Linked DNA regions of Homo sapiens. The protein of the gene in region 4 interacts with the protein of the main gene of each other region in a pairwise test. Each region holds a gene or a part of one and is shown on either strand. Other genes may lie near its edges.

What was found.
Region 1: the proteins of SGTA (region 4) and FKBP7 interact in binary tests that used the Homo sapiens proteins (3 or more experiments, as listed by UniProt).
Region 2: the proteins of SGTA (region 4) and LSMEM2 interact in binary tests that used the Homo sapiens proteins (3 or more experiments, as listed by UniProt).
Region 3: the proteins of SGTA (region 4) and SUOX interact in binary tests that used the Homo sapiens proteins (3 or more experiments, as listed by UniProt).

The regions. Positions count from the first base shown.
Region 1 is NC_000002.12:178,468,592-178,475,618, reverse strand, and holds part of FKBP7 (peptidyl-prolyl cis-trans isomerase FKBP7 isoform a precursor), read left to right. Parts: intron 1-1,651; exon of another isoform or gene 1,652-1,764; intron 1,765-2,476; exon of another isoform or gene 2,477-2,590; intron 2,591-4,094; exon of another isoform or gene 4,095-4,182; intron 4,183-5,833; coding exon 5,834-5,967; intron 5,968-7,027. UniProt on the Homo sapiens protein: PPIases accelerate the folding of proteins during protein synthesis.
Region 2 is NC_000003.12:50,274,722-50,282,100, reverse strand, and holds the start of LSMEM2 (leucine-rich single-pass membrane protein 2), read right to left. Parts: upstream 3,015-7,379; 5' UTR 2,988-3,014; coding exon 2,930-2,987; intron 1-2,929. Other genes in the region: SEMA3B (semaphorin-3B isoform 3 precursor), read right to left, coding at 5,395-5,799, 6,257-6,396, 6,486-6,541, 6,642-6,799, 7,048-7,089, 7,167-7,258.
Region 3 is NC_000012.12:56,000,276-56,006,052, forward strand, and holds the end of SUOX (sulfite oxidase, mitochondrial), read left to right. Parts: intron 1-1,936; 5' UTR 1,937-1,946; coding exon 1,947-1,996; intron 1,997-2,267; coding exon 2,268-2,445; intron 2,446-3,342; coding exon 3,343-4,752; 3' UTR 4,753-5,250; downstream 5,251-5,777. UniProt on the Homo sapiens protein: Catalyzes the oxidation of sulfite to sulfate, the terminal reaction in the oxidative degradation of sulfur-containing amino acids.
Region 4 is NC_000019.10:2,759,261-2,766,287, forward strand, and holds part of SGTA (small glutamine-rich tetratricopeptide repeat-containing protein alpha), read right to left. Parts: intron 6,026-7,027; coding exon 5,926-6,025; intron 4,498-5,925; coding exon 4,393-4,497; intron 3,385-4,392; coding exon 3,246-3,384; intron 2,263-3,245; coding exon 2,200-2,262; intron 35-2,199; coding exon 1-34. UniProt on the Homo sapiens protein: Co-chaperone that binds misfolded and hydrophobic patches-containing client proteins in the cytosol. Mediates their targeting to the endoplasmic reticulum but also regulates their sorting to the proteasome when targeting fails.

The DNA.
Region 1 (7,027 bases), on a different chromosome or scaffold from region 4:
TTGGCAAAAGCATGGAAAAACCAGCATTATTGCTGGGAATGGAAATCATTCAACTTCTCTATCAACTGTTATCAAAAGTGAAAATGCAGGCCCGGGTGTGGTGGCTCATGCCTGTAATTCCAGCACTTTGGGAGGCTGAAGTGGGCAGATCACTTCAGGTCAGGAGTTCGAGACCAGTCTGGCCAATATGGTGAAACCCCGTCTCCACTAAAAATACAAAAATTAGCTGGGTGTGGTAGAGTGTGCCTGTAATCCCAGCTACTTGGGAGGCTGAGGCAGGAGAATCGCTCGAACCTGGGAGGCAGAGGTTGCAGTGAGCCAAGATTGCGCCACTGCACTCCAGCCTGGGCAACAGAGCGAGACTCCATCTCAAAAAAAAAAGTGAAAATGCACGTGCCTTCTTATCCAATAGTTCCATTTCCAGGAATGTGCACAAAGGTATATGTAAAAGAACATTCACTGCAGGCATTTTTGGGTGGGAGGGTGGCAAAAGGTTGGAAACCACCTGCCTATCCATCAATAGGAAATTAGTTAAATAAATTATAGTATATCTATACAATGAATTACTGTGTAACCAGTAAAAAGAATGAAGTAGAGCTATACTTATTAATATGTTAAAAATAAAGTGGAGGCCAGGCATGGTGGCTTCATGCCTATAATCCCAGCACTTTGAGAGGCTAAGGTGGGAGGATCACTTGAGCCCAGGAGTCTGAAAGCAGCCTGGGCAATGTAGGGAGACACAATCTCTACAGAAAATTAAAAAGTTAGCCAGGCGTGGCGGTATCCGCCTGTGGTCCCAACTACTCAGGGGGCTGAGATGGGAGGATCCCTGGAGCCTGGGAGGTCGAGGCTGCGGTGAGCTGTGATTGTGCCACTGCACTCCAATCTGGGCAACACAGCAAGACCCTGGCTCAAAAAAAAAAGTGGACAAGACTATATTCCACTTTTGGGATATATATTGAGCATCAGTGCCAGGCTTTGTTCTAGGCACTGGGCATAAAGCAGTGACCAAAGTAGACACTACTCCCAATCCTCTATGAGCTTTCATTTCAGAGGAGGAGTTTCACATATGCATGTATCTACACAGAATACATCTGGAAGAATATGCAGTCATCTGATGACATTAAGTGTTCCTGGGAAGGAGGCCTCAGGGTCAAGGATGAGAAGATTTCTTTTCACTCTAACATTTTGTACCATTTGAAAGTTTTATAAGGCATGTATTAATTTTTCCAAAATTAAAATTTTAAATTACAAAAATTGCATGTAGCAGAACAGAGAAGAAAATTTTTAAAGCAGGCAGGAGGATGGGCAGCCTGATAGGCTGTACCTTGCATCCTTAGTTAGGTTCTTGCTCCGTGTTGCTGCTTGAAGGCTATACAGAAAGAATCTTTGCCTCCTTACCCTATTTAGAGCCACTGCTGACTCCACCGGTTTGAAATAGTAAAGATTAATTTTCCACAATGAGATATTGGCATTGCTCCCAAATATTTCATGGAAGTGGCATGCCTTCTTTGAGGCAGTTGTCTTAGTCATTAAGAGTTCTTTCCAGCAAAATCGGGGCATCAGTGCCCCACACTGGATTGGCGGGTGGTGGGGGGGTGTCAGTGCTTTGAGTCAGACCCAGTCAGGCTTAAAACTCCTAAAGAGACAATTTCCAGATAACTTCAGCTTTATTTTTAATGCTTTTTGCCAATAATTTGATCCCATCAGAACAGCTCCCATGGTACCATAATTCATATATCCTGTTTTTATTTGTATAGGAACCTAGGAGAAAGAGAAGGAAAATTGAAAATAAATTAAGTCAAATGCAATACTTGTGCTAAAAATGTTGTCAAAAGTTGAGGCCACTTCTAGGCAAAATGTTGGAGGCAGAGTTTGCCTTTCAGTCTCTTTCTCATTTTCAAAGTTTTCCTTTCTGTCTTGCGTTGTGTCTTCAGATGCCTCCACATTCTGCCTACCACTAGAGCACCCACTCTCCTATCTGCCTAGAGCACACACATCTGTCATCATCAGGTGCTCATCCAGGGTTCACCGCCATCAGGCAAAGGACCACTTAGCTTATCTTTTTCATAAACTAATTTATGCTTAGATATGAATGACTACCCAGGCTGCCTAAGCTCTTAATAAATCAGAAACTTGCTGCAGAGATATAGAAGTTTGATGTGAAACAAGTTCATATTCAATTGGAGGTATCTCTAACAAACATTAAAGTGATTAATCTCACTAGTAATACCACCAGCACCCTCATTTTACAGAGTAAGAAACTGAGGCCCAAAAAAAGTGTTAATTGGACCATAGTTAATACTGACCTTGCCTGCGTTACATTAGGCATTGTAATCCAATACCTTGGATTACATTATTTTAAAAGTTGCAGTGTAGACCTTAAGTAACTGTTTAACAAACAACCTCTTGATTAAATAAGCATTTAAAAGTAAGTTGTTATTAAGACCTAACATTAGCTATAACTTTATTTTAGGTAGTACTTGAAGAAGTCTTTCTTCTGCAAAATATCCTTGTCTCATGTCACAGAACAACCCTGCATGTCTTGAAATGCATGTGACTTGTTAGTGCTTAAATAACAATACATGCGGTATGTATATATTCTTTACCTTAATTCCTACTTCTTTGATCTGCTTCTCTAAATATAAGTAATTCCGTAGCAAATGCATATTTTCCTCATTTTTATACTTTAGTTTTTTTTAAAAAAAAAAAAAAAACAAGAAAAAGAGGTAATTGGCAATATATCCTTTTTTTTTTTTTTTTTTTTGAGATGGAGTCTTGCTCTGTCACCCAGATTGGAGCGCAGTGGTGTGATTGATCTTGGCTCACTGCAGCCTCTGCCTCCCGGGTTCAAGCTATTCTCCTGCCTCAGCCTCCGAGGAGCTGGGATTACAGGCACACGCCACCATGCCTGGCTAATTTTTGTATTTTTAGTAGAGATGGGGTTTCGCCATGTTGGCCAGGCTGGTCTCGAACTCCTGGCCAGCCAGGCTGATCTCGCCCTCCTGGCCAGGCGCAGTGGTATAAGCCAAATAAGAATTGCTTGAACCTGGGAGGCAGAGGTTACAGTGAGCCGAGATCGCGCCATTGCACTCTAGCCTGGGTGACAGAGGAAGATTCTTGTCTAAAAAAAAAAAGTGGTATAAGCCACTGCGCCCGGCCAATATTTTCTATGTTTATAGCAAAATTGTTCAAAAACTGCATATGTACCTACAATATTTTTTCTTAAGAAATTCAAGTTTTGGGCTGGGCACAGTGGCGTATAGCTGTAATCCTAGCACTTTGGGAGGCCGAGGTGGGTGGCTCACCTGAGGCTAGGAGTTCAAGACCAGCCTGGCCAACATAGTGAAACCCCGTATCTACTAAAAATACAAAAAATAGCTGGGTGTGGTGGCTTGTGCCTGTAATCCCAGCTACTTGGGAGGCTGAAACACAAGAATCACTTGAACTCGGGAGGTGGAGGTTGCAGTGAGCCAAGATCGCGACACTGCACTACAGCCTGGGCAACAGAACAGATTCTGTCTCAAAAAAAAAAAAAAACGAAAAGAAAAGAAATTTGAATTTGTGTTTTGAGTTTGCCTTGAATTATTGTCAGGAGACAATAATTCTGTCATAAGGAGATAACTGGAAAAAATAGGAATGGGTTTTATAAAACAATCATTGACTCAATCTCTAGCTCTTCTACTCTAAAGTCAGGTAATATGTGGTGCATTAGGTTAGGACTTTTATGTTAGTCATATGATGCATGGGTAGATCTTTCTATGTTTTCTCTTTGAAAACTACTAATCTGCTACTCCTTTTGGCTATAACTCACAAACTCTTTTCTCTTCAGACTATATAAAGACTTTAGCTAGAATGCTTCACTTTTTTATTAAAGAAATTGCTGTTTCCTTCCAAGGACAAACATTTTAAAAATAAATGATATGGGTCATTCATTCGGCAAATATTGGACTGCCTGTAGTAGATTAGGCACTGTGTAGGACACTGGCAATATACTGATGACACAAGCTACCCGCTGCCCCTTAGCAAGTCATTTTTGCAAGTCACTTTTATGACATATTTATCTGAAATAGCCCATCACTTATTAAAATCACCTGTGACATCATGGCCTGGCACGGTGACTCACGCCTGTAATCCCAGCACTTTGGGAGGCCAAGGTGGGTGGATCCTTTGAGGTCAGGAGTTTGAGACCAGCCTGGCCAACATGGTGAAACCCCATCTCTATTAATAAAGTATAAAAAATTAGCCAGGATTGGTGGCAGGCACCTGTAATCCCAGCTGCTCGGGAGGCTGAGGCAGGAGAATTGCTTGAACCTGGGAGGCAGAGGTTACAGTGAGCCGAGATCGTGCCATTGCACTCCAGCCTGGGTGACAGAGGAAGATTCTTGTCTAAAAAAAAAAAAAAAATCTGTGACATCAGCTAATAGGTTAACTTAATTAAAGAGAGCAATTCTGGCCAGGCACAGTGGCTCACATCTGTAATCCTAGCACTTAGGGAGGCCAAGGCAAGCGGATCACCTGAGGTCAGGAGTTCAAGACTAGCCTGGCCAACATAGTGAAACCCCATCTCTACTAATAATGCAATGCCTGGTGTGCACCTGTAATCCCAGGTACTCAGGAGGCTGAGGTAGGAGAATGGCTTGAACCCAAGAGGCAGAGGCTGCAGTAAGCGGAGATTGCACCACTGCACTCCAGCCTGGGAAACAGAGTGAGACGCCGTCTCAAAAAAAATAAATAAAAATAAAAATAGGTATTCAACTTATTGCTTAAAAATGTATACAATTTCTTTGTAAAATTGTTACTGAATTTTTATTTTAATTCTTTTTTTTTTTAATAGAGACAGGGTCTCACTATGTTGCCCAGTTTGGTCTCAAACTCCTGGGCTCAAGTGATCCTCCTGTCTCGGTCTCCCAGAGTGCTAGAATTACACGTGTGAGCCACTGTGCCCAGCCTGTTACTGGATTTTTCTATCATTGCACTTATTTTTTAATGTCTATAAAAAATTTGAAAGACAAATATATTAATACTTATGTTTTATTTATGCTTCCAAATAACTACACAAAATCACTTTCTAAAAGATGACTCATCTATGCTTTGCAATTTTTCTGCCCATGCATTTCTTCTCTGTGCCACCTCTCTTCTGTGTTGATGATAGGAGAGTACAGTTGTCTCTCAGTACCTGTTAGAGATTGGTTCCAAGACCTTCTCATGGATTCCAAAATCCACAGAAGCTCAAGCCCCTGATACAAAATGGCATCACATTTGCACATAACCTCTGGACATCTTCCGGTGTACTTTAAATTATCTCTAGATTACTTATAATATCTAATACAATGTAAATGTTATGTAAAAGATTGTTATATTGTATTGGTTAGGGAATAATGACAAGACAAAAGTCTGTACATGTTTATTACAGACACAACTATCCTTTTTTTGTATGAATATTTTCAAGCCGAGACTGGTTGAATCCACAGATGCAGAACCCACAGATATAGAGGGTCATATCCATGCATTAATAAAAAGTTTATGATTTTTACTTAAATTAATCAAGAAATAGTGGTCCCATAGGTCCTTTGAATTGACTTGGTTTGGAAACATATGGAAAAAATATTCCTAAAAAAGTATTTATAAAAAAAAGAGAAAAAAAAACAAAAAAGAAAACTATTGAAAAGCCGAAAAAAGTTATAAAAGATGAGAAAAAATTAAAAATTGTGAGTATTCAGATAGCAATTCTTATCAACATGAAATAATATAATATGGTTATGGCAGTTCATGAATAGATATTTGAACTATATCTTTACATAAGTTAAACTGTTAAAATTTATACCCTTAGCAGAAGGCAAGATTCCACCGGATGCTACATTGATTTTTGAGATTGAACTTTATGCTGTGACCAAAGGACCACGGAGCATTGAGACATTTAAACAAATAGACATGGACAATGACAGGCAGCTCTCTAAAGCCGAGGTAATTCAAACCAATTTCATGTGTATAGTCTAATTTTTTTATCACAGTTTAAATACATCTGTGTTACAACTATTACTTTTTAGGTCTAGCTAGCATGGGCTCTGATCACTGCTTTTATAGAGCTGGTCACTAAAAAATAATCTAAGCGCTTAGAAAAAGCTCTAAGCTTTTTCAGTATAAACCTTGTGAGTCATCCTGTTCAATTGCCTTTCTCCCTGCAAGAGAGTCATTAAAATCCCGAATTATTTGTCTCTACAGTGCTCTTCCAGTTTCTAGATTACACTAGCATATCTCTTTTTCAGACAGCACTGTAAGAATTTGCAACAGGGCAAATAATTCACGCCTCATAGGATGATGAAAAGAGCTAGCAAGGGTCTGAATTGAGTGGGCTAGAAAGTTGGTAAACAGGAGCCAGAAGTTCAGCCAGCTAGCGTCTGTATCTCAGCCTTGTAATAAAGATCTTGTAATAATAATGATAATTGGGCTGGGCATGTGGCTCATGCCTATAATCTCAACACTTTGAGAGGCCGAGGTGGGAGGATTGCTTGAGCCCAGGAGTTCAAGACCAGCCTGGGCAACACAGGGAGACCCCCGTCTCTACAAAAGATTTAATAAATTAGCCAGGCATGGTGGTGCATACCTGTGGTCCCAGCTACTCAGGAGGCTGAGAGGTAGGAGGATCGCTTGAGCCCAGGAGGTTGGGGCTGCAGTGAGCTGTGATCATGCCACTGCACTCCAGCCTGGAAGATAGACTGAGACCTTGCCTCCAAAAAAAAAAAAAAGATAATAATAGATAACATTTATTTTATACTTTTAGTACCAGGTACTATTTATAAGCACATAAGTATGTGAACTTATGTAATCTTCATGATAGTTTATGGGGCAGACACTATTGTCATCATCTTCGCTTTTAGATGGGGAAAATAATAATCAGGTTAATCAGCCAAAAATCACACAGTAGTAAGGGGCAAAACCTGGGCAATCTGGCTTCATGACTGTTCTTACATTTCAATTTTTTAAATTTTTCTTAGAGACAGGGTCTTTCTCTGTTGCCCATGCC
Region 2 (7,379 bases), on a different chromosome or scaffold from region 4:
GTGGGCGGATCACGAGGTCAGGAGTTCAAGATCAGCCTGGTCAACATGGTGAAACCCCATCTGTACTAAAAATACAAAAAATTAGCCGGGCATGGTGATGGGCGCCTGTAGTCCCAGCTACTCAGGAGGCTGAAGGCAGGAGAATAGCTTGAACCCAGGAGGCGGAGCTTGCAGTGATCCAAGCTCAAGCCACTGCACTCCAGCCTGGGCGACAGAGCTAGACCTCGTCTCAAAAAACAAAAAAGTAATTAAAGATTAGTTTGGTGTGGTGGCATGCTTCTGTGGTCCCAGCTTCTCAGGAGGCTGAGGTGGGAGGGTTGCTTGAGTCCAGGAAGTCAAGGCTGCAGTGAGCTGTGATCATGCCATTGTACTCCAGCCTGGGCAACAGAGTGAGACCCTATCTCCAAAAAAAAAAAAAAAAAAAAAAAAATTCCCTGCTGCCGGGCGCAGTGGCTCACACCTATAATCCCAGCACTTTGGGAGGCCAAGGCAAGTGGATCACAAGGTCAGGAGTTTGAGACCAGCCTGGCCAATATGGTGAAACCCCGTCTCTACCAAAAATATTTAAAAATTAGCCAGGTATGGTGGCAGGCGCCTGTAGTCCCAGCTACTTGGGAGGCTGAGACAGGAGAATCACTTGAACCTGGGAGGCAGAGGTTGCAGTGAGCAGAGATCGTGCCACTGCACTCCACCCGGGGCGACAGAGCAAGACTCCGTCTCAGAAAAAAAAAAAAAAAAAAGGGCCGGGCGCAGTGGCCCATGCCTGTAATCCCAGCACTTTGGAAGGCCGAGGTGGGCAGGTCACGAGGTCAGGAGATCGAGACCATCCTGGCTAACACAGTGAAACCCCGTCTCTACTAAAAAATTCAAAACAAAAATTAGCTGGGCATGGTGGCTGGCGCCTGTAGTCCCAGCTACTCGGGAGGCTGAGGCAGGAGAATGGCATGAACCCGGGAGGCAGAGCTTGCAATGAGCCAAGATCGTGCCACTGCACTCCAGCCTGGGCGACAGAGCAAGACTCTGTCTCAAAAAAAAAAAAAAATTTCCCTCTTTGTACTTTGTTGTGCTTTTCTCACACTTTCTAAATTGAATGTGAATTGTTTATTACAGGAAAAACACACAGTAAATGTTATTGTTAAGATCCCAAAAGAGGGTAGGCACAGTGGCTTATGCCTCTAATCCCAGCACTTTGAAAGGCCAAGGTGGCTGGCCGGGCGCGGTAGCTCACACCTGTAATCCCAGCACTTTGGGAGGCCGAAGTGGGTGGATCACGAGGTCAGAAGATCGAGACCATGCCGGCTAACACAGTGAAACCCCATCTCTACTAAAAATACAAAAAATTAGCCAGGCGTAGTGGCGGGCTCCTGTAGTCCCAGCTACTCAGGAGGCTGAGGCAGGAGAATGGCGTGAACCCGGAAGGCGGAGCTTGCAGTGAGCTGAGATCGCGCCACTGCACTCCAGCCTGGGCGACAGAGCGAGACTCCATCTCAAAAAAAAAAAAAAAAGAAAAGAAAGGCCAAGGTGGGAGGATTGGATTGGTTGAGGCCAGGAGTTCAAGACCAGGGAGACCCTTCTCTACACACACACATGCATGAAAGTAAACATTTCCCCCTACCAGGGGCAAGGCCCCTCTCCTGCAATGTTGAAAATGTTGGCAGTGGCTCACGCCTGTAATCCCAACAATTTGGGAGGCCAAGGTGGGTGGATCACCTGAGGTCAGGAGTTTGAGACCAGCCTGGCCAACACGGTGAAACCTTGTCTCTACTAAAAATACAAAAATTAGCCGGGCATGGTAGCACATGCCTGTAATCCCAGCTACTTGGGAGCCTGAGACAGGAGAATAGCTTGAATCTGGGAGGCAGAGGTTGCAGTGAGCCGAGACCGCACCACTGCACTCCAGCCTGGGTGACAAAAAAAAAAAAAGTTGAGGCCAGGCGCGGTGGCTCACCCCTGTAATCCCAACACTTTGGGAGGCTGAGGTGGGTGGCTTACGAGGTCAGGAGTTCAAGACCAGCCTGGCCAAGATGGTGAACCCCCGTCTCTACTAAAAATACAAAAATTAGCTAGGCATGGTGGCAGGCGCCTGTAATCCCAGCTACTTGGGAGGCTGAGGCAGAGAATTGCTTGAATCTGGGAGGCGGAGGTTGCAGTGAGCCGAGATCACGCCACTGTACTCCGGCCTGGGTGACAGAGCGAGATTCCATCTCAAAAAAAAAAAAAAAGTTGAAAATGTGATAAGAGGAGCTTGCTAGCTGGGCCATGCTCTGTCATGGGCCATAACATGGAGCCATGGAGCAGACAGTCCTACGTCCTGGCCAGTACTGGACCTGTAGCTTCCTAGATTCCTGCTGCCCTGGCCCCTCTGAGCATCAGTACTTCTTATATGCAGTGGTGCAGTTAGGTGAGTGGCCACCAAGCTCTTGACTAGCTGAGTCTCTGTCTGACCAGGCCAAGGGACCCCCAACCCTAGGCAGTTGGGGATATTTAGACCCAAGTCAGGGGAGGCCAGAGGCCTAACTACTTTTCAGTCCATGGGACAGGTACCCAAATGCTTTCTGGAACCACTACCCACCCCAATCCCAGCTTCCTTCCTTAAGAGCTGAACCGGCCAGGCAGCTGACCGGATGCCCACACCCACCTGAGCACAGCCTGTAGTTGACCCACTCCTAACTGGGTAGCTTCTCCCATCCCTCCTTGATGTCCCCAGCAGGGGAAACTGAAGCAGGGCCTGAGGTGACAAGGGGCTCCAGGCATGGCAGGCTTTTCCTCCCTGCACAGGGGGCAGGTCCTTTTACTGGAGCTGGAGCATGAAAATGGGTAACTAACTACTCAAGACAGTGAGGTCAGTGGGACAGAGGGTGGGTCTCTCCATGGTCCACAAGGTCACAGGACTGAGGCCTTGCCCTCCCTCATGGTCACCCTCTCCTACCTTCTTGGGTCTCCTCAGGCATGGCAAGCAGTGGGCAGTCGGGGGCCAATGATGGCATCCAGTAGCAGGACTGGACAAATGCAGCAGTGGCTCCTTTGTGAGCCCAGGGAAGGCCTGGCTGCCTCCCAGCCTTGGCCTAAAATAGGCCTGAGCTCAGCCCACTGGGCTATATTTAGAGGGGGCAGCCCTCAGCCATGGGAAGGGGCAGAGTGATCCACGTGGGCCAGCCTGAACTATCTACCTGGTGAGGGAGCCAGCCAGGAGCCTGCCTCCACTAGTCCAGGTGCCCAGGGACCTTCAAGGGGAAGCACACCTCCCCCATACATCCAGAATGGCCACTCCAGGCTCAGCAAGGCCCCATGTGGCAGCCAAGACAGACAAAGGAAGCCTGTGCATCTCTATTTGGCCACCCCTCTACCCCTGCAGACTCCTACCCACAGCCCAGTCATCTCTCCTCCCAGCAAACACAGCAGCCTCCACTGCATGACCTGCTAGCACACAATGCTATTGTTGTGTGTGTCTTATAGAGGGTGATGGACAACTGAATCCCAATGCCATGAGGGCTCTGATAGCTTCACAAGTGGGCAGATACACCAACAGCACCCATGCTGGCCAGTGGGTGGACCTAGGTTGGAGGCTGGTTCATTTGTTACTAAGCTTGCAACCTTAGGTAAAGGGTCTCCCCTCTCTGAACTCAGTTTGCTCATGTGTAAAGTCGGAATAACAGTGGCTCCTCCCTGGCAGTGTACACTGAGAACAACATCTGGAGCATTTAGCACAATCCACGGTTTTGGTCTTCCCCTGCTCCCATCTCCACAAGGGCAGACAGGTCCCATAAGGTTGTGTAAGGATGCGCATCACTGCTTACCTTGAAAGGAGGAGGTGGTCCAGCTTCCAGCTTTCCCTCTGTGGTTGGATCCCTGTGCCCTTCCTTCCCAGTGGGGGCAAAGCAAGACTGTGGGCTCTACTTCCTACACACCTCAAACCTGTCACTCCGTTGTCTCACACTGGCCTCCCTGATGTTCCTCAAAGTCAACAAGCTTGTTACCACCTCAGGGGCTTGGTGGTGGCTGTTCCCTCCTGGAATGCTCTGCTCCCAGATAGCCCTGTGGCCAGCCCCGTCTTGTCAGCGAACTCAAATGCCACCCCTTCAGTGAGGCCTTCTGTGTACATTCTTTTCCACATCACCCAGTTTTCTTTTCTTTGAGACAGAGTCTCGCTCTGTTGCCCAGGCTGGAGTGCAGTGGGGCGATCTCGGCTCACTGCAACCTCTGCCTCCCTGGTTCAAGCAATTATCTTACCTCAGCCTCCTGAGTAGCTGGGATTAAAGGCGCGTGCCATCACACCCACCTAAGTTTTGTATTTTTAGTAGAGACAGGGTTTCACCATGTTGGTCAGGCTGGTCTTGAACTCCTGACTTCATGATCCGACTGCTTCGGCCTCCCAAAATGCTGGGATTACAGGCGTGAGCCACTGCGCCCGGTCCAGTTTTATTTTCTTCCTAGCACTTAGTCCTGAAGTTATATTATGCACAATGTACCCTGCGTGTCACTATTCCCAAAGGCCCTACAGAACCTGTTCAGTCACGCGGAACCACCTTTTTTTTTTTTTTTTTTTTTTTTTTTGGAGTCTCGCTCTGTCGCCCAGGCTGGAGTGCAGCGGCGAGATCTAGGCTCATTGCAACCTCCACCTCCCAGGTTCAAGCAATTCTCCTGCCTCAGCCTCCTGAGTAGCTAGGATTACAGGCGCCCGCCACCACGCCCGACTAATTTTTTGTATTTTTAGTACAGACGGGGTTTCACCGTGTTAGCCGGGATGGTTTCCATCTCCTGACCTCGTGATCCGTCCGCCTGGGCCTCCGAAAGTGTTGGGATTACAGGCGTGAGCCACCGCGCCTGGCCGGAACCACCTTTAATCCTCACCAGGCAACCTTGGACAGGAGAAACTCGGGCCCTGACACCGCTAGTAAGGTGCCCAAGACCACATAGCAAGGCCGAGGACTGGGGTTTTCTGCTGGGGCCATTCCAGCTTTGGCTGATAATGCGTTTATTGCGTTACTTTAGTACAGTCGGCCTGCCTCGCCCCACCTCCAGCAGCCCAGCCTGTTCACAGCTTTCTGCTCACTGCTCACTACCCAAGGAGGTGGGGTCTGTCTCCCAGGGTGGGCACTCCAGGCACCTCCTCGGCCCTGGTCGTTGCTCTGGAGCTCGGCTTCCCCGTCCCTTCCCTCCGGCTGAATCCTGCGCCCGACCTGTGCCGCCCTCCCGGGGCTGCTACATTCAAGGGTTATCCTGTTAATAAATAAGCCCGCGCAGCTGCCCTCAGCCAGGGCCTGTCGGTTGGTGTCTCCATCGGCCGGTGACCCCCAATGTGCCCGGCCCCAACCCGTCCTTCTTTTCAGGGTCTGTCTGGCTCCTCTCTCGCCTGTCGTCTCCTGCTTGGTTCCCGGCGTGGGGACAGTCTGGTCACCAGTGCGTTGCGCTGCGCGGCCCCCGCTCAGCGCGAGGCTCAGGGGCGTGGGTCCTCCGGTTACGGCCCTTTCTCCGCGACTCCAGGGGCAGTGACTGCAGCGCAGGCTGCGGGCGGCACATGCGCAGGGAGTTCGCGCTGCCACCTCCGCCCGGCTCCACCAGCTGCAGAAAGTCCCGGTACCAGAGTTTGGGGCCCGGCGGCGCGGCGGGCGCAGCCTCCTCGGCCCGCGCCAGTCGTTCGGCCTGCGTAGCACTCAACACGTGCAGCGACAGGCGACGCAGCGGTTGCGTAAAGCCCTGCTCGACGGCGGCGCACAAGTACACGCCCGAGTCCCGGCGCCGCAGCCTGCGCAGCAGTAGTCCCCGGGCGGTGCGCTCGGTGCGCTCCTCTGCCAGCACCTGCGGGCAGAGGGCAGCGTGAGGCGGGGGTGTCGGGCCGGGAACAGGGCTTCCGGGCCCTAGCACGCGACGGAAGAAGCAAAGAGTCATTGGGAGCCGAGGTGGAGCGGGAAAGGGGTGCCCGCAGGCGCACATTTTAAGGCTGAGTGTTTGGGAGCTGGTGGTCTTCAAGGGAGAATCCGAAAGAGGCGGGGTTTACATGAACTTGGTGGGGGGTGGTCAGGGACCTTAATGGGAGGGTCGAGGGCGGGTCTTCTCCTTGATTCAGGGGAGGCGGGTCGGGAGCCCCGTTGGACGCAATGGGGCCTCAGCAGCTTGTGGAGTGCAGGTGAGGGACCAAACTGGACAGGGCGGGGAGTGGGTCTGGTTGGACGGGGCTTCGTTGGGTAGGGCGGGGCCTCTCCTGGATGCAGGGGGTGGGACAGGAGCCTGGCGGGGAGGGCGGAGTAAGGCTCACCTGGGTGTGGGCTGTCACCCCTGCGCGCTGGAAAGTCCACTCCACGCGCGCCTGCAGCGAGCGGGGCTCACACTCCAGAAAGGCGCTGCTGCCCTCCACGCCGAACACCTTGTGTTCCAGCAGCGCGGGACGAGACGAGTCTTGGGGCGAGAAGAAAGTCAGATTTAGGCAAGGCAGGGCAGGTGGGGCGTCTTCTGGGGCTGAGGGTAGGGGCAGCTGGGGCACTCACCTCCGGAGCACAACGTGCTGGGGTCGCCATTCCTTACGTCTTGCCGCCGGAACCGCCTGTGGGGAACATCCGATCTTCTGTGAGCCCTTCTTTCAGCCCCGGGCAGTGAAAGACCCTTCGCCTCCCTCCCGGCGGCCCAACCCCGACCCCGCCCACCTCTTGGCACTGGGCTGGAAGCGCGTGCACGCGACCCCGTCCCAGGCGCAGTAGGGGTCACGCGCCAGACAGCATTCGGTGCAGACGCGGCCGTGGGCAGCGCAGCGGTGCAACGCGATCTGGGCCACCGCGCTCCGCGAGGCTACGTACAGCTGGTGCTAGGGGGCACGAGGGGCTCTGGGCTGACCGAGGGCGACCCCACGCCTGCCTCCCATCGGTCAGGGATCCCTTCTTCCACTCGACAGATGGGAACACTGAGGTCTTACGCCTCAGGTCACACAGTCTAACAAAGCCAGAGCCTGTACTCAAACCCGGGACTGCAAACTACCAAAAGGGGCCAGAGGCTTGGGACGCGCCAGGCACAAGCTCAGTCCATCCCACCCCGACCCCCATCCTGGTCACTCACCCTCTTGGAAGAAATTTGCATGCTGGTGACAGCGGCCGAGTCCTGAGAGGGAGGAGGGGCGACGGGGTCAGGGCTTAGTGGGGTGGGGGGGTCCCGGGCGACTGGGGGTGAGGCCTCACCTCAAACACGTGCAGCTCCTCCAGGAGCAGCCCCTCTGCGCTGGGCCTACTGCCCTTGGGGACCGAGATCACCTTCAGCACCGTGCCAACGTCTGCAGGGATGAGAAGGGGTAATGACCATTGGTGCTCCCGGACAGCTGGGGCTAGTGTCTCCTCGCCTTTGAGGCGTCTACCCTCAGCATGTTTGGGTTGTGAAGAGTGTGGACTGGAAGA
Region 3 (5,777 bases), on a different chromosome or scaffold from region 4:
CGAGCCCTGCCCCGCGGGGAGGCAGCTAAGGCCCGGCGAGAAATCGAGCGCAGCGCTGGTGGGCCGGCACTGCTGGGGGACCCAGTACACCCTCCGCAGCTGCTGGCCCAGGTGGTAAGCCCCTCATTGCCCGGGGCCGGCAGGGCCAGCCGGCTGCTCCGTGTGCGGGGCCTGCCAAGCCCACGCCCACCCGGAACTCCAGCTGGCCCGCAAGCTCCGCGCTCAGCCCCGGTTCCCGCTCGCACCTCTCCCTCCACACCTCCCTGCAAGCTGAGGGAGCCGACTCTGGCCTTGGCCAGCCCAGAAAGGGGCTCCCACAGTGCAGCGGCGAGCTGAAGGGCTCCTCAAGTGCCGCCAAAGTGGGAGCCCAGGCAGAGGAGGCACCGAGAGTGAGCAAGGGCTGTGAGGACTGCCAGCACAATGTCACTTCTCACTAGGATTATAAGGGTGAGCCACCACACCCAGCTCTTTTATTACAGTATAATGTTATAATTTTTTTCTTTTTCTTTGTTTTTTTTTTGAGACGTTTGAGACGGAGTCTCACTCTGTCGCCCAGGCTGGAGTGCAGTGGCGCGATCTCGGCTCACTGCAACCTCCGCCTCCTGGGTTCACGCCATTCTCCTGTCTCCGGAGTAGCAGGGACTACAGGCGCCCGCCGCCAAGCCCGGCTAATTTTTTTTTTTCTATTTTTAGTAGAGATGAGGTTTCGCCGCGTTAGCCAGGATGGTTTCGATCTCCTGACATCGTGATCTGCCCGTCTCAGCCTCCCAAAGTGCTGGGATTACAGGCGTAAGCCACTGCGCCGGGCTAATTTTTCTATTTTGTTATTGTTGTTAATCTCTCTTTTTTTTTTTTTTTTTTTTTTTTGAGATGGAGTCTCTCTCTGTTGCCCAGACTGGAGAGCAGTGGCGTGATCTCAGCTCACTGCAACCTCCACCTCCCAGGTTCAGGTGATTCTCCTGCCTCAGCCTCCCGAGTAGCTGGGGTTACAGGCACGTGTCACCATGCCTGGCTTATTTTTGAATTTTTGTAGAGACAGGTTTTCCCCATTTTGGCCAGGCTGGTCTCAAACTCCTGACCTCAGGTGATTTGCCCGCCTCAGCCTCCCAAAGTGCTGGGATTACAGACGTGAGCCACTGCGCCGGGCATTGTTGTTAATCTCTTACTGTGGGTAATTTAGTAATTAAACTATAAGAGGTATGTATGTATGGGGGAAAAAACAGTAATATAGGGTTTGGTGCAATCTGTGGTTTCAAACATCTACTGGGGGTCGTAGAACATATCCCCAGTGGATAAGGGGGTACTACTGTACTTGTTGGCTCTTCATGTTAGCTCTGCTAGGCAGATGTCATTTCAGAGATGAGGAAGCAAGTTCAGAACGGCTTGGAATCTTGCTCAGGAAATCGGGCTGGTTAATGAATAACAAGAGATCCAGTTTCACAAACCCAAGGCATTTTGCCCCCAGAATCTGGGCTTCTTCACCCATTTAGGCTGTCACTACTTTTTTTTCACTTTTTTATCCCTGTTTAAGTCAGTCTGACCCACAGTTGTCCTCTGCTGACTTCAGAAATAATAATCTGGCCAGTAGACATTTGGTTTCGGTCCTTTAGGCCCTTCGCCCCAGGCATCGTTCTCTATGGTGGACAAAGTTCAGAATGGAAGATGGGAGAAAGGTGATTCTGATTCTAGAAGCACCCATCCCTCCTACCCCATTCCCCACCCGCATTACCTGCCATCCTGTCAGCACAGTCTGTCTCTGAAGTGCTCCAAGTTTTCTCTAAGGGCCCATTTGGACTCCCACTCTCAAGACTCCTCACTTGCCCAGAAAGCTCCTTGCTGACCTTCTCTGTGTCTTCCTCTCACCCATTCCCTTAGGCCTCCCTAATATCCCCTCCCAGGGTCTCCCTATCTTGATCCCAGAATCTTCCTTCTACAGGTCTGCTACAATGCTGCTGCTGCACAGAGCTGTGGTCCTCAGGCTCCAACAGGCCTGCAGGTAGGCCAGCCCATCCCAGGACTTGCCTCCTAGCCCCTATCTGCCACCCTTAGTGTCTTTTACAATGTCATACCTTGCAAATAAGACAGTTGAGAGAGTGTGTCCAGGGAGGACAGAGAAAGCCAGATCCCACTTTTCCCACCTATCCCTGGAGAAACTAAGTTCCAACTTAAGGAACCAATGGCCAACCAGGGAGAAAGAAGTAGACCCCAAGCCTTCACTAGCCCTTTCACATGACCATACGTGCTACTAAGACCGACCTCTCTTCCAGACTCAAGTCAATCCCCTCAAGGATCTGCATTCAGGCCTGCTCCACAAATGATTCATTTCAGCCCCAGCGCCCCAGCCTCACCTTCTCTGGTGATAACTCCAGCACCCAGGGATGGAGAGTCATGGGGACCCTATTAGGTCTCGGTGCAGTGTTGGCCTATCAGGACCATCGGTGTAGGGTAAGTAGGGAAAGTGCTTCATTGTCAGAACAGACTGGGTGCAGTGGCTCACGCCTGTTATCCCAGCACTATAGGAGGCCAAGGTGGGTGGGTCACTTGAGGTTAGGAGTTTGAGACCAGCCTGGGCAACATGGCAAAACCCCATCTCTAGTAAAAATTAGCCAGGTGTGGTGGTACATACCTGTAATCTCAGCTACTTGAGAGGCTGAGACACAAGAATCACTTAAACCCAGGAGGCTAAGTCTGCAGTGAGCCAAGATCAAGATCAGGCCACTGCTCTCCAGCCTGGGTGACAGAGTGAGACTCCATCTCAAAAAAAAAAAAAAAATTGTCAGAATAAAGGAATCAGTCCTAGTAAACTCCACAGGCAACCCAGGCTGTGACCCATGTTCTTGTAGTTACCACAGAGTTCACAGTGACGCAGTCTTCATGCACAGTGGAGATGAAATCTGCTAATCTGCTACCTTCGCTTCCCAGTGGCCAACACCGTGGGTTGGGTCAGGGTGAGCTCAAGTGATTTCTTCTTATTCTTCTTCATTTTTTCTTTTTTTTTTTTTTGAGATGGAGTTTCACTCTTGTTGCCCAGGCTGGAGTGCAATGGCATGATCTCAGCTCACCACAACCTCCACCTCCCGGGTTCAAGTGATTCTCCTGCCTCAGCCTCCCAAGTAGCTGGGATTACAGGCATGCACCACCATGCCCAGCTAATTTTGTATTTTTAGTAGAGACAGGGCTTCTCCATGTTGGTCAAGCTGGTCTTGAACTCCCGACCTTATGTGATCCGCCCACCTCGGCCTCCCAAAGTGCTGGGATTACAGTTGTGAGTCACCACGCCCGACCAAGTGATTTCTTCTTAATAGTCTCTTCCCTTTTATCTTACTCCTTCCCTGCCAATAGGCTGCTCAGGAGTCAACACACATATACACTAAGGAGGAAGTGAGTTCCCACACCAGCCCTGAGACTGGGATCTGGGTGACTCTGGGCTCTGAGGTCTTTGATGTCACAGAATTTGTGGACCTACATCCAGGGGGGCCTTCAAAGCTGATGCTAGCAGCTGGGGGTCCCCTAGAGCCCTTCTGGGCCCTCTATGCTGTTCACAACCAGTCCCATGTGCGTGAGTTACTGGCTCAGTACAAGATTGGGGAGCTGAATCCTGAAGACAAGGTAGCCCCCACCGTGGAGACCTCTGACCCTTATGCTGATGATCCTGTACGTCACCCAGCCCTGAAGGTCAACAGCCAGCGGCCCTTTAATGCAGAGCCTCCCCCTGAGCTGCTGACAGAAAACTACATCACACCCAACCCTATCTTCTTCACCCGGAACCATCTGCCTGTACCTAACCTGGATCCAGACACCTATCGCTTACACGTAGTAGGAGCACCTGGGGGTCAGTCACTGTCTCTTTCCCTGGATGACTTGCACAACTTTCCCAGGTACGAGATCACAGTCACTCTGCAGTGTGCCGGCAACCGACGCTCTGAGATGACTCAGGTCAAAGAAGTAAAAGGTCTGGAGTGGAGAACAGGAGCCATCAGCACTGCACGCTGGGCTGGGGCACGGCTCTGTGATGTGTTAGCCCAGGCTGGCCACCAACTCTGTGAAACTGAGGCCCACGTCTGCTTTGAGGGACTGGACTCAGACCCTACTGGGACTGCCTATGGAGCATCCATCCCTCTGGCTCGGGCCATGGACCCTGAAGCTGAGGTCCTGCTGGCATATGAGATGAATGGGCAGCCTCTGCCACGTGACCACGGCTTCCCTGTGCGTGTGGTGGTTCCTGGAGTGGTGGGTGCCCGCCATGTCAAATGGCTGGGCAGAGTGAGTGTGCAGCCAGAGGAAAGTTACAGCCACTGGCAACGGCGGGATTACAAAGGCTTCTCTCCATCTGTGGACTGGGAGACTGTAGATTTTGACTCTGCTCCATCCATTCAGGAACTTCCTGTCCAGTCGGCCATCACAGAGCCCCGGGATGGAGAGACTGTAGAATCAGGGGAGGTGACCATCAAGGGCTATGCATGGAGTGGTGGTGGCAGGGCTGTGATCCGGGTGGATGTGTCTCTGGATGGGGGCCTAACCTGGCAGGTGGCTAAGCTGGATGGAGAGGAACAGCGCCCCAGGAAGGCCTGGGCATGGCGTCTGTGGCAGTTGAAAGCCCCTGTGCCAGCTGGACAAAAGGAACTGAACATTGTTTGTAAGGCTGTGGATGATGGTTACAATGTGCAGCCAGACACCGTGGCCCCAATCTGGAACCTGCGAGGTGTTCTCAGCAATGCCTGGCATCGTGTCCATGTCTATGTCTCCCCATGAGCATGGAAAGGAGCCACCTCCACCCCTTTCCCCACCCATTAGCCTCACTGCTTCAGAAAAATCTTTCCCACCTTTCAACTTCTTGGATCACAACTCTGGCCTTCCTAAGCCATACCCAAGTACACATATAGCACATTTCACCCAAGGACCTTCCCTCTTTGGACACTATGTTACATACCCCTCTTGGCCTTTGAACCTGTGCCAGGAAGTGTGAGCTGTTACAGCAAGGGGCTAGAAGTGAAAAAAGTAATTCTGGAGACAAGCACTATTTTCTCTTCCTACCCCACCTCCATTTCTAATGCCTACTGCCATCAAGGCCTTGTTTTGCTTTTCTTTTTGGATTGTTCAGAGAAATGTGTGTGGCATGTGTAAGAAAAGTGTATATACTATCTTATACTACCTCTCCAGGTTGCCAGAGAGTTGCGAGGAGAGCAAGGGGCACAACCGTCTCCCTTTATAGTTCTACTTTTCTAATAAATAGTCTGTTTAAGATCATAACTCTTGGGCCTGGGGAGTGAGCCTATTGCAGGAGGAAGGATGCATTTGTACTGGGATGTATAATGAGATTAGACCAAAACAAACAAAACTGGGGAGGAAGACAGAGAGGAAGTAGGCTTGTAGGTTAAGAAGTAGGGCTTCCGGCTGAGCACAGTGGCTCACGCCTGTAATCCCAGCACTTGGGAGGCCAAGGCAGGTGGATCACTTGAGGTCAGGAGTTCGAGACCAGCCTGGCCAACATGGCAAAACCCAGTCTCTACCAAAAATACAAAAATTAGCTGGGTGTGGTGGTGGGTGCCTGTAATCCCAGCTACTTGGGAGGCTGAGGCAGGAGAATCGCTTGAACCAAGGAGGCAGAGGTTGCAGTGAGCCGAGATCACACCCACTACACCCCAGCCTGTGCGACAAAGCGAGATTCTGTCTCAAAAAAAGGGGGGCTTCCTTCTCTGAGGTTTGGCAGTATCTGCAGGGACACCTAGGTGATTGACCTCAGGATACCATGAAGAGAGGAGAGGTGACAAAAACAT
Region 4 (7,027 bases):
GCTGAATCTGGGGATTGTTCATTAGGTTCGAAGCCTGAAGAACAGAACAAATTTGTCAGGAAGACAAAGCTCCCAGCGCATCATTCTCTTTCATCAGACACTTTCCATCTTAACCAGCCTTGGTTCTGGACTCCAGCACGCCAACCAACAGTAAGAGCCGGGCATTCGGTCTTTCATACCCTTTTCCCTACATTTTCGCCCCCCCACCCACGAGCTGTGACCTCCACATTGTGACTTAAATCCTGTTTTGGGTTCCTGCTTCAGGAGCGATCTCGCAGCGCCACAGCGCTCTCTCACTGGCTGCTGCGGTTTTGCTGTGTGGAGGCGTTTTGGTTCTTTATTTTAGCTGCTGTCTGCTTTAGCATATTTCATTTAGCATATTTGGTTCCAGTTTTGCTCTATCAATAAATAGCACTGTGGCTGGGCGCGGTGGTTCACGCCTGGAATCCCAGCACTTTAGGAGGCCGAGGCAGGCAGATCGCTTGAGGTCAGGAGTTCGAGACCAGCCTAACCAACATGGTGAAACCCCGTCTCTACTAAAAATATGAAATTAGCCAGGTGTGGTGGTGCATGCCTGTAGTCCCAGCTACTTGGGAAACTGAGGCACAAGAATCGCCTGAACCTGGGAGGGGGAGGTTGCAGTGAGCCGAGATCACACCGCTGCACTCCAGCCTGGGTGACAGAGTGAGACTCTGTCTCAAAAAAGAAGTAAAAATAAATAAATAAATAAATAGCACTATACTGGGCACTTTCTCATGTTAACTTTCCACTTGGGATTATTCCTTTGGACCTGTTGAAAGGAGGTGGCTCAGAGGTGTGGCAAACTCTCTGTGTAAAGGGCCAGTGTGTAAATACTCTCAGCCTTTTCAGACACGGGTGCCTGACGCAACTACTCAGCTCTGCCGCCGTATCATGAAAGCCACCAGTGACACTAGGTGTATGAATGGGCATGGCTGTGTGCCAATAAAACTTTATTGGTCAGGTGTAGTGGCTCACACCTGTAATCCCAGCACTTTGGGGGGCCGAGGCGGGTGGATCACAAGGTCAGGAGTTCGAGACCAGCCTGGCAAACATGGTGAAACCCCATTTCTATTAAAAAATACCAAAATTAGCCAGGCATGGTGGTGGGCACCTGTAATCCCAGCTACTCGGGAGGCTGACGCAGGAGAATCGCTTGAACCTGGGAGGCGGAGGTTGCAGTGAGCTGAGATCACACCACTGCACTCCAACCTGGGCGACAGAGCGAGACTCCATCTCAAAAAAAAAAAAAAAAAAAAAAACCAAAAAAAACTTTATTAACAAAACCCAGCGGCGGGCCTTATTCTGCCAACCCCAGATGTCTGAAGGGAAAAGGCGTCTGTGACATGGCCAAGCTGAGAGGCCCCTTGAAAGACTGGGGCCCAGTCACCCTCCATCCCATGGTGAGGGAGAACATATTCCCCTGGCAGCTTGGCCAGCGGACGAGGGCTACAGTAAGAGGTGTGGCCTCTGCTGAATGGCACGACCCGGGCAGGGCTCCTGGCCCAGCTGGCTCATTTTTCTGACTGACAGTGAGACTGAGGGCTTTTCTCCCCGACAGCCTTAGGCGAGTCCCTGTACCCTGAGGCTGTGGGAGCCTGAAGAGTGGTCCCAGGGCACACAGACCTCCCAGGAAATGAACATGTGTGTGTGGGGGATGGCTCTCCGAGGATCCCAGTCAAGGAACTCCCTGCCAAAGGCCGTCCCTTTGGAAGCATGAGTGCCCGGGCATCGGGAGGTCCACCTGCGCCCGGCGCACCCGGCGCTCTGCTTCCCTTGCCTGAACCTTAGGAGGCAGACGCTGCTGTGTTGTGATCAGTGTCTCTGCACTGCGAGGAGGAGCCCACGCCAGGGTGGGGTGGGGGTGTGACCTCCCTGGGCTCAGCCAGGAGAGCCAGCTTTTGGTGCTCACTACTGATGGGTCTTGCTTGGGACATCAACATTGGGGACACTTTTGATTGTCGAAGCAGAGGGTGGGGGTGCTCCTGACATGGGGCGGGTGAGGCCAGGGGTGCTGCCAGCGCCCTGCGGTGCCCAGGACGACCCCACAGACAAGACCCATCTGGTTCCAGAAGCCAGCAGTGCCAAGGCAAGGAAGCCCTGGCCAGTAGCGGACACAGCAGATGCGGGCCTGGGGGGTGGCGCAGACACCATGGACAGGGAGGAGGGGCGGGCCGTTACCATGCTCATGAAGCCAGGGTTGTTCAGCAGGCCGGCGATGTCGAAGCTGCCCACGCCTCCCGTCTGAGGATGAGAACAGCCCTGGTTAGTGGGGCCTGGACCAGAGGCCACGGTGAATAACCCCCTGGAACTCAGAAACAACGGCCCCCCACGGGGCTCAGACATTCTATCAACCCTGCGGCCAGAGGGTGCTTTGAGGCAGGCAGCACGAAGCACATCGCAACCGCCCGGGGACGGCACAGTCTGTCATCCCGTGTTTATTCCCCGCACAGCGCGACCGCCCGGGGACGGCACAGTCTATCATCCCGTGTTTATTCCCCGCACAGCGCGACCGCCCGGGGACGGCACAGTCTATCATCCCGTGTTTATTCCCCGCACAGCGCGACCGCCCGGGGACGGCACAGTCTATCATCCCGTGTTTATTCCCCGTACAGCGCGACCGCCCGGGGACGGCACAGTCTATCATCCCGTGTTGATTTCCTGTATTCTGCCGCTTTGACACCTTGGGGCCTTGCTGGCCTGGCAGAGCCGCCCCCTCCTGGAGTAGCCAATTCCCAGAGAAAGCAAATGACTCACCCAGAAACGCACCTTTGAAATACAAACAAACTAACCCAGAACCCACACCCTCAGCACCTCCCCCATCACCCCAGGGCCACAGTCCACCTGCCCCACTCACCCCCAGGCCAGGGACCAGGCAACCAGGGGCAGCCCCCAGGCCTGGGTCTAATGAAATGGCTCCAACCAGCCAACCCGAAGCCTCCTCACCCGGCCTCGCCACAAAACCCACATCGAGGGTCCTTTCTGTGCCCCTCCCTCAGCCTCCGCGGGCAGCCCTGCGGCCGGCCTCCTGCTTCCAGGGGTCTGGGGGCATGAACCTTCTCACGACACTCACTTCCACGCCTGTGCATCTCACCACCAACTGAAACAAACCCCGGACCCTCACGACACCCAGGTTAAGCCTAGAGCCACTGGTGCGCCCGAGGACCTGTCCCCCACCCACACAGTCAGCTCGGCGTTCTGGAGCCACTCGCCCCCGCTGCACTCACGGGGCTGGGGGCCTCCCGCAGCTTCAGCTCCGCTATCTTGAGGTTGGACTTGTATGTCTCGTTGTCGGGGTCCAGCTCCAGAGCCTTCTTGTAGTAAGCCACGGCCTCCACGTGCTTGTTGAGGCTGGAGAGCGCCAGGCTGGAGGAGAGCACCGGGGATGGACTGTTCCCATCTGCCCAGCTCCAGGAGGCCCCGCCAAAGCCCTCGTCCCCGGCGGTCCTGGCAACCCCCAAACCACCTCGGATGGTGCCACCCCCTGCCCGCTGTCAGCTCAGTGGAGACAAACCTGGCTTTCGAGGGGCCCAGGGGCAGGACTGAGGGAGACAGACATGAGAACACCCCTGCCACACAAGAACTGGAGTCCCCATGGGGCCACACACAGGGCCTCAAAGCCCAGAGCGGGCTGAGAGGAGGGAGCGGGCCAGCTCAGGGTCACAGGAAATGCGTGGATGTTGTCTTGGCCCCGCTTCCCGGCACAGGGCACCAAGGACCCTCGGAACCTCTGAGCGACAGACATGTCTCCCGTCATCCACAAGCAGCCCCTGACCCCCACCTGAGTGAGTCTTCACTCGTGAGGTGACTCAGGGCCCCTACAGAGCCCAGGAGGAGGCGGGTCCTGGGGAGACTGGGCAGTTGAACAGGGCCCCTCCCCAGCCTCTGGGGAGACCCAATCCCACAAACTCTGAGCAAGGGCATTCAGAGAAGCAGGCGAATGCACGCTTATGCTGGGAGGGCGGCACCGGCTGCACGGGGCGCAGGCTCCTGCCCCGGGGACCCTCCTGGCCTCACTCTCGGACCTGTCCTGTGTCCTTCATCATAAACCAGGTGCTTCCCTGAGCTCTGTGAGCCGCCCCAGCAAACAATGGAGCCTGAGTAGGAGCCATGGGAACCCCAGGTGACAGCCAGTCAGGGAGAAGCAAGGGGCCCAGGGATCTCCGGGTGGCACCTGATGCGGGGCGTCTGTGGGGCTGAGCCTGTGACCTGTAGGGACTACGTTGGCTCCGAACAGCTAGTGTCAGAGTTGAACTGAACCGGGGTGGGAGAATTCGTTGTGGGTGGGAAAAAAGCCACACAAGAGAGGAAGCAGGAGCAGGAGAGGAGGGGTCCCGAGAGACTGGAAAGGCGCGGCCGTGGACAGGCACTCACCCCATCCTGCCGTAGGCCTTGCTGTAGGCCGGGTCAATGCAGATGGCCCGCTCACAGTCCTGCACCGCGCCTGCGTAGTTGCCGAGTTTGCTGTAGGCTGCGGCTCTGGGGAAGAAAAGGCAGGGCAGGTCCCTCACTGGCGGCTCTGAGCCCAGCGGGCAGCCCTTGAGGGGAGCCTGAGAGCTGCGTTCCTCTCCAACTTCCTGGAGGAACGGCCTCAGTTTTCCCCATCTGTAAAATGGGGCTGATGGGGAAAGCTGAGAGGTGTGGCCACTGAGATGCTCTTAGACAAATGTGGGCTCAAAGCACCAGCAGCCACTCAGGACTGCGACTCTGAATTTTATTTGCAAAAAATGTTCCGATCCATGGCTGTACAAGAGCAATGAGGGTAGGGAACTTATACCCAAGTTTCATTCACAAATTATTTACATATCAGTAAAAAAAGAACTCAGACCAATGTCAAAGCTCAAAGCTCTTGGCTTACAGCGTCTGAATCGTCTTCACCATTTTCGTGTTTAGTGTTTCTCTTTACAATTTTTTCAAAGTACAGAGAAGAGTGAGTGGAGACTAAACTACCCCATGACAGGCGGCCAGGAACCCTGCACTGCCTCTGCAACTGTCCTGTAAGCCTGAAGCAGATCCAAGACCACACATTCAAAAAACACAACCCTCCACATACTGGATTATTTTCTTGGCTTGACATCCACGTGGAATGCCATGATACCTGATTTTCTATGTATGTATTTATGTATTTATTATTTTTGAAACAGGGTTTTGCTCTGCTGCCCAGGCTGGAGTGCAGTGACACGATCTCAGCTCACTGCAACCTCTGCCTCCCGGGTTCAAGTGATTTTCCTGCCTCAGCCTCCCAGGTAGCTGGGACTACAGGCACCCACCACCACATCCAGCTAATTTTTGTGGTTTTTTTCGGGGTTTTTTTGAGACAGAGTCTCCCTGTCACCCAAGATGGAGGGCAGTGGCGCAATCTTGGCTCACTGCAACCTCTGCCTCCCAGGTTCAAACCATCCTCATACCTCAGCCTCTTGAGTAACTGGTGGTGCCCACCACTACACCCGGCTAATTTTGTATTTTTAGTAAAGACGGGGTTTCACCATGTTAGCCAGGCTGGTCTTGAACTCTCAACCTCAAGTGATCCCCCCCGCCTCAGCCTCCCAAAGTGCTGGAATTACAGACGTGAGCCACCGCGCCTGGCCCCCAGACTAATTTTTACATTTTCTGTAGAGACGGGGGTCTTGATATGTTGCCCAGGCTAGTCCCGAACTCCTAGCCTCAAGTGATCTTTCCCCCATGGCCTCCCAGAGTGCTGGGCGTGCTACCTGATTTTAAATCAGCATCGACTCTCCCCGACCCCGTTGCTGGTCACCTGATGCTCGCTCCTGGTCTGAGACCACCGGTGAATGGATCCCTCATCTACAGCGCAGAGGCCTCTCCCATCTCAGGTCCCTGCTAAGCATCCCGGAGGACGCCCCCGCACCCGGCCGCCCCTGCCCTGGGCAGGCCCTGAGCTGGTACCTGTTGCAGAAATAGACGGCGTTGGCTGGGTTGAGCTCGATGGCTTTTCCGTAGAAATGCACGGCAGCTTCAAAGTTTTCCACTTTCATCTGCTCGTTTCCTACAGGGAGAGAGGAAAACACCGGCCCGGTGTCCACACAGACCGGAGGGGGTGTCAGGGAGAGAGGAAAACACCGGCCTGGTGTCCACACAGACCCGAGGGGGCGTCACACTTGGCTCTTCTGGGCAGCCAGGACTCAACACAGATGCCGGCTCAGGAGGCATCTGCATCTATAGGGGGTTCGCTAGTCGCAAACAATCATATCTACATCCACTAAGGGGGATGGAGGTGGGGGCGGCAGGGCCTGGCCTGGCCTGTGCCTGGCGACGGTGGCTGTCACTGCCTGGATGGCGACCCCGGGAGCAGAACAGTTAATACAGCTCACCGGCCCGGGGACGGAAACTGTCCCTTTCGCTATTGCTTTTGGAAAGAGCCCAAGTGGAGGCCTGTATTTTGGAATACTCATGTGATACCTTCTCATTTCATAGGCAATGGGGCTTCTATCTGAGGCATGGGTCCCAGCTGGTAGGACGGTAAAAACCCCAGCTGCTATCCTAGAACTGAGAGCCCTGAAGACAGAAACCCACTCCCGCCCCCGAGATCCCAATTCAGGAGGGCGTGGGGGGAAGATGGGTATCAGCGTGTGTTTCCCTAAACAGTTTTATTGAGATATAATTTACATGCCACAAAGCTTACGCTTTAAAAATATAAGCCCGGGCGCGGTGGCTCATGCTTATAATCCCAGCACTTTGGGAGGCCGACGCAGGCGGATCGCAAGATCAGGAGACCAAGACCATCCTGGCCAACACAGTGAAACCTGTCTCTACTAGAAATACAAAAATTAGCCGGGCGTGGTGGTAGGCTTCTGTAGTCCCAGCTACTCAGAAGGCTGAGGCAGGAGAATTGCTTGAACCAGGGAGTCAGAGGTTGCAGTGAGCCGAGATCACGCCACTGCACTCCAGCCTGGGCGACAGAGCGAGACTCCATCTCAAAAAAGAAAAAAAAGAAATGGGATCACATGCTGTGCGTCCTTTTGTGTCTGGCCTCTCTCCCTGAGTGTGA